Homo sapiens: one gene and its partner. The protein of the gene in region 1 interacts with the protein of each later gene in a biochemical or structural test. Each region holds a gene or a part of one and is shown in the gene's direction. Other genes may lie near its edges.

Evidence for each region. Proteins that work in one complex are often made in the same cells at the same time.
Region 2: the proteins of APBA1 (region 1) and RGS12 interact in a test that uses a peptide from one of them, tested with the Homo sapiens proteins (one large-scale study listed by IntAct).

Annotation. Positions count from the first base shown.
Region 1 is NC_000009.12:69,514,461-69,519,699, reverse strand, and holds part of APBA1 (amyloid-beta A4 precursor protein-binding family A member 1), read left to right. Parts: intron 1-2,420; 5' UTR 2,421-2,489; coding exon 2,490-3,689; intron 3,690-5,239. UniProt on the Homo sapiens protein: Putative function in synaptic vesicle exocytosis by binding to Munc18-1, an essential component of the synaptic vesicle exocytotic machinery. May modulate processing of the amyloid-beta precursor protein (APP) and hence formation of APP-beta.
Region 2 is NC_000004.12:3,309,646-3,314,416, forward strand, and holds part of RGS12 (regulator of G-protein signaling 12), read left to right. Parts: intron 1-4,771. UniProt on the Homo sapiens protein: Regulates G protein-coupled receptor signaling cascades. Inhibits signal transduction by increasing the GTPase activity of G protein alpha subunits, thereby driving them into their inactive GDP-bound form.

The DNA of each region.
Region 1 (5,239 bases):
TCATTCAGGTACTTTCTGTGGTTTTTGTTACTGTTTTTCTTACGCTGACCACACACAACTGTGACACCTCTGGGTAACAGAACCCAAGAAAGTCTGTGATATGTTTGCTATCCCTTTCTGTGAATGCTCACTTTGTGTTTATTAGAATTAGATTTGTACCTTAAGAACCCAATGTAGATTTAATGAAGGTTTATCTGTTGTCTTTTTGAGAAAGTCCTTATGAAGGCAACTTGGGTATGATGTTCTTGTCCATGTGTTGTATTGAATTGAATATTTGTTTTGTGTTTCTTATAATCCACTGGAGGCCCGTAGCAGCAACACTTGCTGCTTCTGTTTAGAGCAGGGGTCCCCAACCACTGGGCCATGGACCAGTATTGGAGCATGAACTCTATTGTGAACTGCACATGCAAAGGATCTAGGTCATGCACTCTTATGAAAATCTAACTAATGCCTCATGATCTGAGGTGGAACAGCTTCTAATCATTCCCCACCCCACCCTGCTGCTGGTTTACAGCCTTAACCATCCATCAAGGTTTGAAGGGAGATTCATACTTGCTTTTGGAGACTTTCTTATACTTAGTCCACAGTCGCTGTTCTCAGGAGTTAATGGGAGGAGCCCAAAATTTTTCAAAAGAGGTTGGGTCTAATTTGTATCAAGTGGGACTTATGTCAAGTAGCGAAGCAATAAAGATTGTTCATCTCTTGTAAACCGTGATTCTTTTCTTCTAGCGAGAATCAGTCAGGGGTGGATCCATCAAAGAATGGGGAAGACATGATACTTCTGCTTGAATGTGGACTTGGTAGCTCCAAAATGATCTCCTTTGTTATTGGGATGGTCATCAATGCTTGAAGGAAATTGCTGTGGTTGTGATGGGGAGTTGAGTAGAATATAATGCATCTCACTACTAGAGAGTCCATCAGATGTCCCTGGTCCTCCTGGGGTTGTCTGTTATCATATTTAAGAGTTCACTTCCCATCCATTGTGTCCATTTGTAAGAAAGGCTCTCCAAAAGAACATAATAGCAAGTTTACACATACTGTTGAGCCTATTTACCATAGGGATCTCAAAATCATAGGGGTCCTGCCTGTTTTGTTGTGGTTGTTTACATTCTTTGTGTCTATTTCTATATACTGCACAGATTATACCATAAAGCTATTTTGTGATAAGAAGAATTGAGAGAGACTGAAACCAAATCTTTCTCTCGAGCTACAAGTTTCTCTGAAAATAGAAAGAGACCTACCCATATTTTTAAAAAATTACACCTGTTATCCAGTTCTAGCTATAATGGCAACTCATAAAATCTTAGAATTTTAGATTCAGGTTACATGGGGAAAGTGAATATAGTCCTCCCTTGGTATCCATGGGGGTTGGTTTCAGGACCCCAGTGGATATAAAAATCCATTATAAAATGGTATAGTATTTGCATATGATCTATGCACATCCTCCCATATACTGTAAATCATCTCTAGATTTCTCATAATACCTAATACAATATAAATGCTATATAAATTGTTGTTATACTGTATTTTTACTTGCATTATTTTTTATTGTTGTATTGTGTTGGATATTTTCCCCTAATATTGTCTTCCGTGGTTGGTTGTATCCTGGATGCTGAGTGCGCAATAGGGAAGCCTAACTATTAGAAACCAGCTGCTATGTAACATTGGCCTCTAGGAAAAAGTGTCTCCTGGTCAAACAAGTTAGGGAAACCCTGTGTCCTGCATCTTCCTCCTTCTGGATATTAACAATGAAAAGTCAACTGTAACTCAGCATTTTCCAAACTTACTTGACCACCGAGTCTTTTTTACCCTATATAATAGCTGTTAACATCCTGCATGTAGGAAATGAGTCCAGTCACACCGTGGAGGTCCAGAAAATTAAGCCACTTGCCTGAGGTCACAAAGTCAGTAATGACAGAACCGGGGCGGGACCCCACTGCTGGCTGATAGCCTCTCTCAGAATGGCTTCAAAAGGTGTTCAAGATTATGTTTCTTTGAAATTGATGTAAAGAGTGATTTCTAAAGTTGTAGGATCCTAGTTTAATTTGGAGAGATTTATCTGTTAGCAGATGGAAAATGTGTCAGTTGGCCCATTCAATTTAGTAGTACTCTTTATTCAGATGCATCAGAAATGGGACCTGAATCGTATGCGTGGTGGAGAACAAAACGTTCCTGAGGCGCTCAGTGTGAGGGGTGGGAACGGAGAAAGGCAATAAGCAATTAAACAAGTAGATATGTAATTACAAATTATGATGCGTGCTATGTATGTGCTGTCAGATTGAACTTAAATTTGCAGTCTTTTTTTAATTGACCCAGAACTAAAAGGAATCAATAGCAGTTGTTTTTATGGTTATCTGAATACTCAGCTCATAACGACTGTTTGCACCACGTGACAGCCTCTCCCCTTCTTGTTTTTCCAGCCCAGTGGAGCAAAATGAGAGCGCAGTGAGCCGGGCCCAGCTTCTCTCCTAGCCGTTCCGACTCCCACCATGAACCACTTGGAGGGGTCTGCGGAGGTGGAGGTGACCGACGAGGCGGCAGGTGGGGAGGTGAACGAGTCGGTGGAGGCCGACCTGGAGCACCCCGAGGTGGAAGAGGAACAGCAGCAGCCGCCGCAGCAGCAGCACTATGTGGGCCGCCACCAGCGCGGGCGAGCCCTCGAGGACCTCCGCGCCCAGCTCGGCCAGGAGGAAGAGGAGCGCGGGGAATGCCTGGCGCGCTCAGCCAGCACGGAGAGCGGCTTCCACAACCACACGGACACCGCCGAGGGCGACGTGATCGCCGCGGCCCGCGACGGCTACGATGCGGAGCGCGCGCAGGACCCCGAGGACGAGAGCGCCTATGCTGTGCAGTACCGGCCCGAGGCCGAGGAGTACACGGAGCAGGCAGAGGCCGAGCACGCCGAGGCCACGCACCGCCGCGCGCTGCCCAACCACCTGCACTTCCACTCGCTGGAGCACGAGGAAGCCATGAATGCGGCCTACTCAGGCTACGTCTACACGCACCGGCTCTTCCACCGCGGTGAGGACGAGCCCTACTCCGAGCCCTATGCCGACTACGGCGGCCTCCAGGAGCACGTGTACGAGGAGATAGGGGACGCGCCCGAGCTGGACGCACGCGACGGCCTGCGGCTCTACGAGCAGGAGCGCGACGAGGCGGCCGCGTACCGCCAGGAGGCCCTGGGCGCGCGGCTGCACCATTACGACGAGCGCTCCGACGGCGAGTCCGACAGCCCCGAGAAGGAGGCCGAGTTCGCGCCCTACCCGCGCATGGACAGCTACGAGCAGGAGGAGGACATCGACCAGATAGTGGCCGAGGTGAAGCAGAGCATGAGCTCGCAGAGCCTCGACAAGGCAGCCGAGGACATGCCTGAGGCCGAGCAGGACCTGGAGCGTCCCCCTACCCCGGCCGGGGGTCGCCCCGACAGCCCCGGGCTGCAGGCGCCGGCGGGGCAGCAGCGGGCGGTGGGCCCCGCGGGCGGCGGCGAGGCGGGGCAGCGGTACAGCAAGGAGAAGCGCGATGCCATCTCGCTGGCCATCAAGGACATCAAGGAGGCCATCGAGGAGGTGAAAACCAGGACCATCCGTTCGCCTTACACCCCCGACGAGCCCAAAGAGCCCATCTGGGTCATGCGCCAGGACATTAGCCCCACCAGGGACTGTGACGACCAGAGGCCGATGGACGGAGATGTAAGTAGGTGCGGGTTTGGGCTTCCTCGGCCCCACGCGGTGGGAGGGAAGATGGCGCCCCATGGCCTTGTGTGCCCTTGGGTAGTGACTTTACGGGAAGTAGTCTGTGGGGACGCTAAGAACTTTTCCACCGTAAGCCTCAGAAACAGCTTGCACCTAAACTGTCAAACGCCAGCGGGAGAGAATTAAAGTGTTGAATGCACTCATCAGATTCTTAGCAGGATGGCCTCAAATCAGTGCTTCCCACACTGTGCCTGGAGACCTTGTGAGAAATGCATTATTGGGTACATCGCCCTCCACCCCCCGCCCCCCCCCCCCCCAGTTTCTGATTCAGAAAGTATGGAGTGGGGCCCGAGAATTTGTATTTCTAATGCCAAATAAAAAACAAGCCATGCTTGAGGAAGGAGAGACTTCACTGGAAAGGATTATTGCAAAGGGGAGAAAGATACTGTTTCGTTTTAGGGAGGAAGGACTGTTGCCATATGAGAACCTCTGACCTTAAGATCTTTAAGGGTCTCTAGAGTTAGGTACAAGGGGGAAGTTGTTTTATAGGGAGGAGTAGCCAAGTAGAAAGAATAGGGTATGTGAAAGTGGCATGAAAAGGGTGGGAGTTGAATGTGCTGTGGATCAGAGAATGTTTCCACCTGAGACCAGCGTTTTCTCAGGAGTGGTTGTATGCTGGCCAAAGTTCACGCACCTGGAGGAAGGAGAGACACTTAACCAAAGTTTGGTTAGCAAGCAGTTCAGCTGATCGTTTGTGAAGAAAGAATGGGAATGTGGAGGGTCTGCGTCTGGCCTTGTCATAGGAAAACAAGAGGAGCATCCCTATCCCTGCTCTGTGTCAGAAAAGAAGGAGTTTCCCAGAACACAAAAGGTTGGGGGTATTTCTTCATTTTGTTTCTCTGGTTCTCAGGTAAAGTTCAACGTTGTCACTAACAAGTTCTCATGCGATGCTCCTGGTCCCAGGACGACAATTTGAGAACTGCCTTATATCAATCCCTTGAAGATCTGGGATGGGTAGTGTGCCCTCTTTGGAGGATAGCCTTCCAAGCCTTTTTCCGCCAGGGGTTTCTGCAGTTTTGTTTATTTGTTTTGTTTTGTTTTGTGACGGAGTCTTGCTCTGTCACCCAGGCTGGAGTGCAGTGATGCAATCTCCGCTCACCGTAACCTCTGCCTCCCAGGTTCAAGCAATTCTACCTCAGTCTCCCAAGTAGCTGGGATTACAGGCAGGTGTCACCACGTCCAGCTAATTTTTGTATTTTTTAGTAGAGACGGGGTTTCATAACGTTGGCCAGGCTGGTCTCGAACCGCTGGCCACAAGTGAACCACTCACCTCGGCCTCCCCAAGTGCTGGGATTACAGATGTGAGCCACAGCACCTGGCCGGTTTCTGCAATTTTTTTTGTTTTGGTTTGGTTTTTTGAGACAGAATTTCACTCTTTTTGCCCAGGCTGGAGTGCAATGGTGTGATCTCGGCTCACTGCAACCTCCGCCTCCCAGGTTCAAGTGATTTTCCTGCCTCAGTCTCCTGAGTAGCTGGGATGACAGGCG
Region 2 (4,771 bases), on another chromosome or scaffold:
GGGAGGAGCTGGGACCCTGGAATGGCAGGTGTCCGCTGAGGGGAACCGTGCAGGGGAGGAGCTGGGACCTGGGAATGGCAGGTGTCCTCTGAGGAGAGCTGAGCAGGAGAGGAGCTGGGACTCGGGAATGGCAGGTGTCTGCTGAGGGGAACCGTGTTGAGGAGGAGCTGGGACTTGGGAATGGCAGGTGTCTGCTGAGAACTGGGTGGGAGAGGAGCTGGGATCCGGGAATGGCAGGTGTCCGCTGAGGGGAACCGTGCAGGGGAGGAGCTGGGACCCTGGAATGGCAGGTGTCCGCTGAGGGGAACCGTGCAGGGGAGGAGCTGGGACCCGGGAATGGCAGGTGTCCGCTGAGGGGAACCGTGTGGGGGAGGAGCTGGGACCCGGGAAATGGCAGGTGTCCTCTGAGGGGAACCGTGTGGGGGAGGAGCTGGGACCCGGGAAATGGCAGGTGTCCTCTGAGGAGAGCTGAGCAGGAGAGGAGCTGGGGCCTGGGAATGGCAGGTGTCTGCTGAGGGGAACTGTGTTGAGGAGGAGCTGGGACCCGGGAATGGCAGGTGTCCGCTGAGGGGAACCGTGTGGGGGAGGAGCTGGGACCCGGGAAATGGCAGGTGTCCTCTGAGGGGAACCGTGTCGGGGAGGAGCTGGGACCCGGGAAATGGCAGGTGTCCTCTGAGGGGAACCGGGCGGGAGAGGAGCTGGGGCCTGGAAGGCCAAGGCAAGGGCTGTCTCCAGTCCACGCTGCACCCCAAGAAGGGAAGTGTGGAGAGGTATTGACTGGTGGCTCAGTAAAATGGCCTGGAAGTGGCCTTGGTGATTCCAGAATCTGCCAGCTCACTCCCTTTGGCACCGTGTCCTGCTGTGTCCAGGGCGGGCAGGTCCATGCTGCTCTGGGTCCAGGGAAGGTCTGGGAAGAGTGGCCAGGGACTTGGAGGGCCTCTCAGGTGAATGATGGGAGGTGGCTGGATGCAGGGATGGCCAGTGCGGGTCTGCATGGGGCGGGTATCAGATCGTCTGGTGTGTGTGTCCCTGATGAGGTGGGAGGGGGGTGCCAGGTGGGTGTTCGGCAGCTGTGGGCACTGTGAGGTGGTGGTGGGGGGAGGCTGCTGGGACATGATGACTATGGGAGGGTGTGAGGTGGGCAGGCGCCTGCGGGGGCAGGTCCCAGGTGGAGAAGGTGGCGTGGTGTCTTGCTGTCTCAGGCCCTTCCTCTGTGCATCCACGTAAGTGTGGGTAAGCCAAGAATAGCCTGGGTTCAAATCCACCTTTGCCGTTAATTGGCTGTGTGCTGGTAGACAAGTTACTTAGCTTCTCTGTGCCCCCACTCCCTCATCTGCACGCGAGAATTGTAACAGAGCCTTCCTCAGAGCGATGATGGTGTTTAGGATGACATGCGCTGCACAGCAAGTCCTGGCCGTGGCGGCTGCCATTGCAGCCCGTGGGGTCACCCTGGAGGCCGTGATTGCTGATGTTGTGCTGTTCTTGTGCCTTGCTCTCTTCTTCTCGGTGCCCCCAGACTCTCTCTGCCTTCGGAGGACGGCGTCTCTCTCGCCTCACACTGTGTGCACGGGCAGTGCGGACGGGTGCTGGCTTGGTCTTTCCAGCCCTGCCTCGCTCGGGGCCTGCTGCATCGTAGCTCAGGCCTAGGACCCATCTCTGTACCTGCAGGTCTTGGGTGCTGCCCGGCATGAGTGGAGGAGTTTATCAGAACAGGACCTTTTATAGGAGGTTTTAACTTTAGAAGGGAATAGAAAAGTGTCATGGCAGCAATATTTATTTCTAGATCACCCTGAGTTTTTTTTCTTTGTTTTGTTTTATTGTCCTCTTTACACCATGAGTTTTTAATGATGAATGAGTGAAGGAGTGACAGTGCGGGTTGAGCATCCCTTATCCAGATGCTCCAGAATCGGAAACCCTCTGACACCGATGTGGCACCTCAGGCATAGCTGAGCTAGTGACACCTTTGCTTTCTCATGGGTCAGTGTACACAAACCTTGTTTCATGCACAAAATTATCAAAAGTACCGCACAAAATTACCCTCAGGCTGTGTGTATAAGGTGTATATGAAACATAAATGAATTTCCTGTTCAGACCTGGGTCCTATCCAAACATATCTCATTACGTATATACAGATGTTCCGAATCAGAAAAAATCCACAGCCCTTCTGGTCCCAAAAATCTCTTCTAAGGGACACTCAGCCTGTGTGACGTGGTCGGTGACTCCTGATGGGAGGTGGCAGTGCTGTGCGGCGAGTGGGGACCTTCGTGTCACATCCCATCTGTGCCTCAGGGCTTGGATGAATTACTTCTGGCTGGACCTTGTTCCCTTTTCCACACAGTGAAGAGGCTGGGTTAAATGATCTCCAGTCAAGGTGATTCAGAGTTAGCTGGAAGGTGTGTAGGGGGAAGTTGGAGCTTCCTGGCCTTGCCCCAGACTTACTAAGTCAGAGTCCCTGGGAGGTGCAGGGGCTTGGGAGCAGGCGTTCTTACTGGTAGCCCCGATGGTGTAATGGAAGTTCAGCTGGAATCCAGTACCCCATGGTCTTCTAAATTTCACTGTCTGTTCTGCTAGCTTTACTATTAATTGATACAGTTTTAAAAAAAATTAAACTATAAGCTGAACTTATGTGATTATTTTGGGAGGCCAAGGTGGGAGGATTGCTTGAGGTCAGAAGTTTGAGACTAGTCTGGGCAACATAGTGAGACCTCGTCTACAGAAAAATTAAAACATTAGCCAAGGTTCACTGGGTGTCTTCTCCTTGGCCCCTTTGCCCACGTGGTGAACACTGTGGACCTGTGAGGGTGTGAGGGTTGCGTTCCTGCGTTCTGGACTCTTTACCCACTACTGAGAAGCAGCCGTTTGAAATATGAGTTGGCAAGGAAGATCAGCATGTAGGCTTAGACCAAGACGGTATGTGCAGCCTCCTGAGCTAACTGGGCCTGTGCTTGAGCCCAGTGATGAGCAGCCTCAGCAAGAGGAACCACCACCTGAAAGTCGGGGTCTTACCTGGCCAGGAGAGAGAGGAAGATCACGGTGCTGCTGAGATTCTTGTGCTTGACCAGGAAGCTGATCTCCGGGAGCTGTCTCAAAGACTGGGATGAATGTGGAGATGGTCCTGATGTCCGGGGAATATTCTGCCGAAATCAGAGCAATTTAAATTGCCAGAAGGAGGTGAAGGGCAACCACAGGTTCCAAGGAAGACAAGCTGAAACAATGCAAACTGGTTTTATATTAGATACGTGACTTAAAATATCTCAATACAGTTTTCTCCAAAAAAAAAAAAATAGTTAGCCGAGTATGGGGGTGTGCTTGGTATGGCTTGAGCCCAGGAGTGAGTTTGAGGCTGCACCGAGCAATGACTGTGCCACTGCACTCCAGTCTGGGCAATGGAGTGAGACCCTGTCTCTAAAAAATAAAAACAAAGAAACGTGATTATAGATAATAAGATATTACTTACATGAGTTACAAACCATTTCTTTTTAATAAGCAGAGGCCCATGACAGTAAGAGTCTAGTAGAAAAATTGGGTGGACTGCATAGAAGACATTGTCCATCATTATGTCACACAGTGTGAGGCGGATGGTGCGAATAAACTGGGAAGTCATGTCTTTCATTGAGGCAGCATCTATTCCTGTTTGGAAGAGAAAGCCGAGAGGTGTTCTGTTCCCCGAGGAAGCCATCAAGGCTTCATGACCTGCTGTCCTGGGGCTGTTCACAGTGATAGCTGGCACTTGCCGGGAACAGCAGCACCTTTGTTGTGTGACAGATGCTTTTCTGAGCGTGCTTTAGTGAGACCGTTTCACGCATGTCCTGCTTTCCCTCTCCCCTCACCCGTGACAAAGTGATTCCCCCTTGTATTTGTTTCCTGGGGTTGCTGAAAGAAATTACTGCAAACTGGGGGGCTTAAGACAACACACATTCATTCTCCTGCGTTTTCGGGGGCCTCGTGTCTGCAGTCAGTGTGACCTGGCTGATGGCAGGTGTGGCAGAGCTGGTTCCTCTGGTGACTTTAAGTCTGCTTCCTTCACCTTTCCGGCTTCTGGAGGTGACCGCCTGCCCGTCTGCCTGGGCTCGAGACCCATCCTTGAATCCCTGCAGTCTCCGCATCCTTCCTCATGTGGCCGTCCCCTCTGGCTCTGACCCCAGGCTCACACAGGCGCACCCCACACTCTCCCCATCTCTAGAGCCTTCACGTGGTCACGTGGATGGGAGGAGCCATCCAAAAGCTTGGGAGTGAGGATGTGGGTGTATCAGGGGCCATCAGCCAGCCTGTCACACCTCTTAAGAAGATCGATCCCCAGACGTGTTTCTTGGCCAACTTTTACATTTATTTATTTATTTTTTAATGATGATTTTTAATAATTTTTAATTATTAAAAAATTATAAAATAATTTTAATTATTTTATTTTTTAAATTCATTTTTTAATGATTTTAAATAGTTAAATGCCCAGTCCTAATATTTAAATTATTAATACAGTACTACTTAGATATTGAGTAATGTAATTTATATTCATTTTTTACTCTTTTCCATCAAAACATAATTTTACTAAGTACGCATGTTCTGTGTCCGTGTTTTGTCATCACTGAAGCCACTTTTGGAGTCACCTAGTAATAGCCTTTCCACTCTATCTAGTTCTGTAGCTTTTATGTGTGTAAATTACTTCAAATCTGTTTATGATCCTATTGCTGGAAACTTTATCCCAAGACACAAAAATCTTTTCTATTAGAAGTTATTAACTTTAAAACAATTATTTATTTTATTTTATTTTATT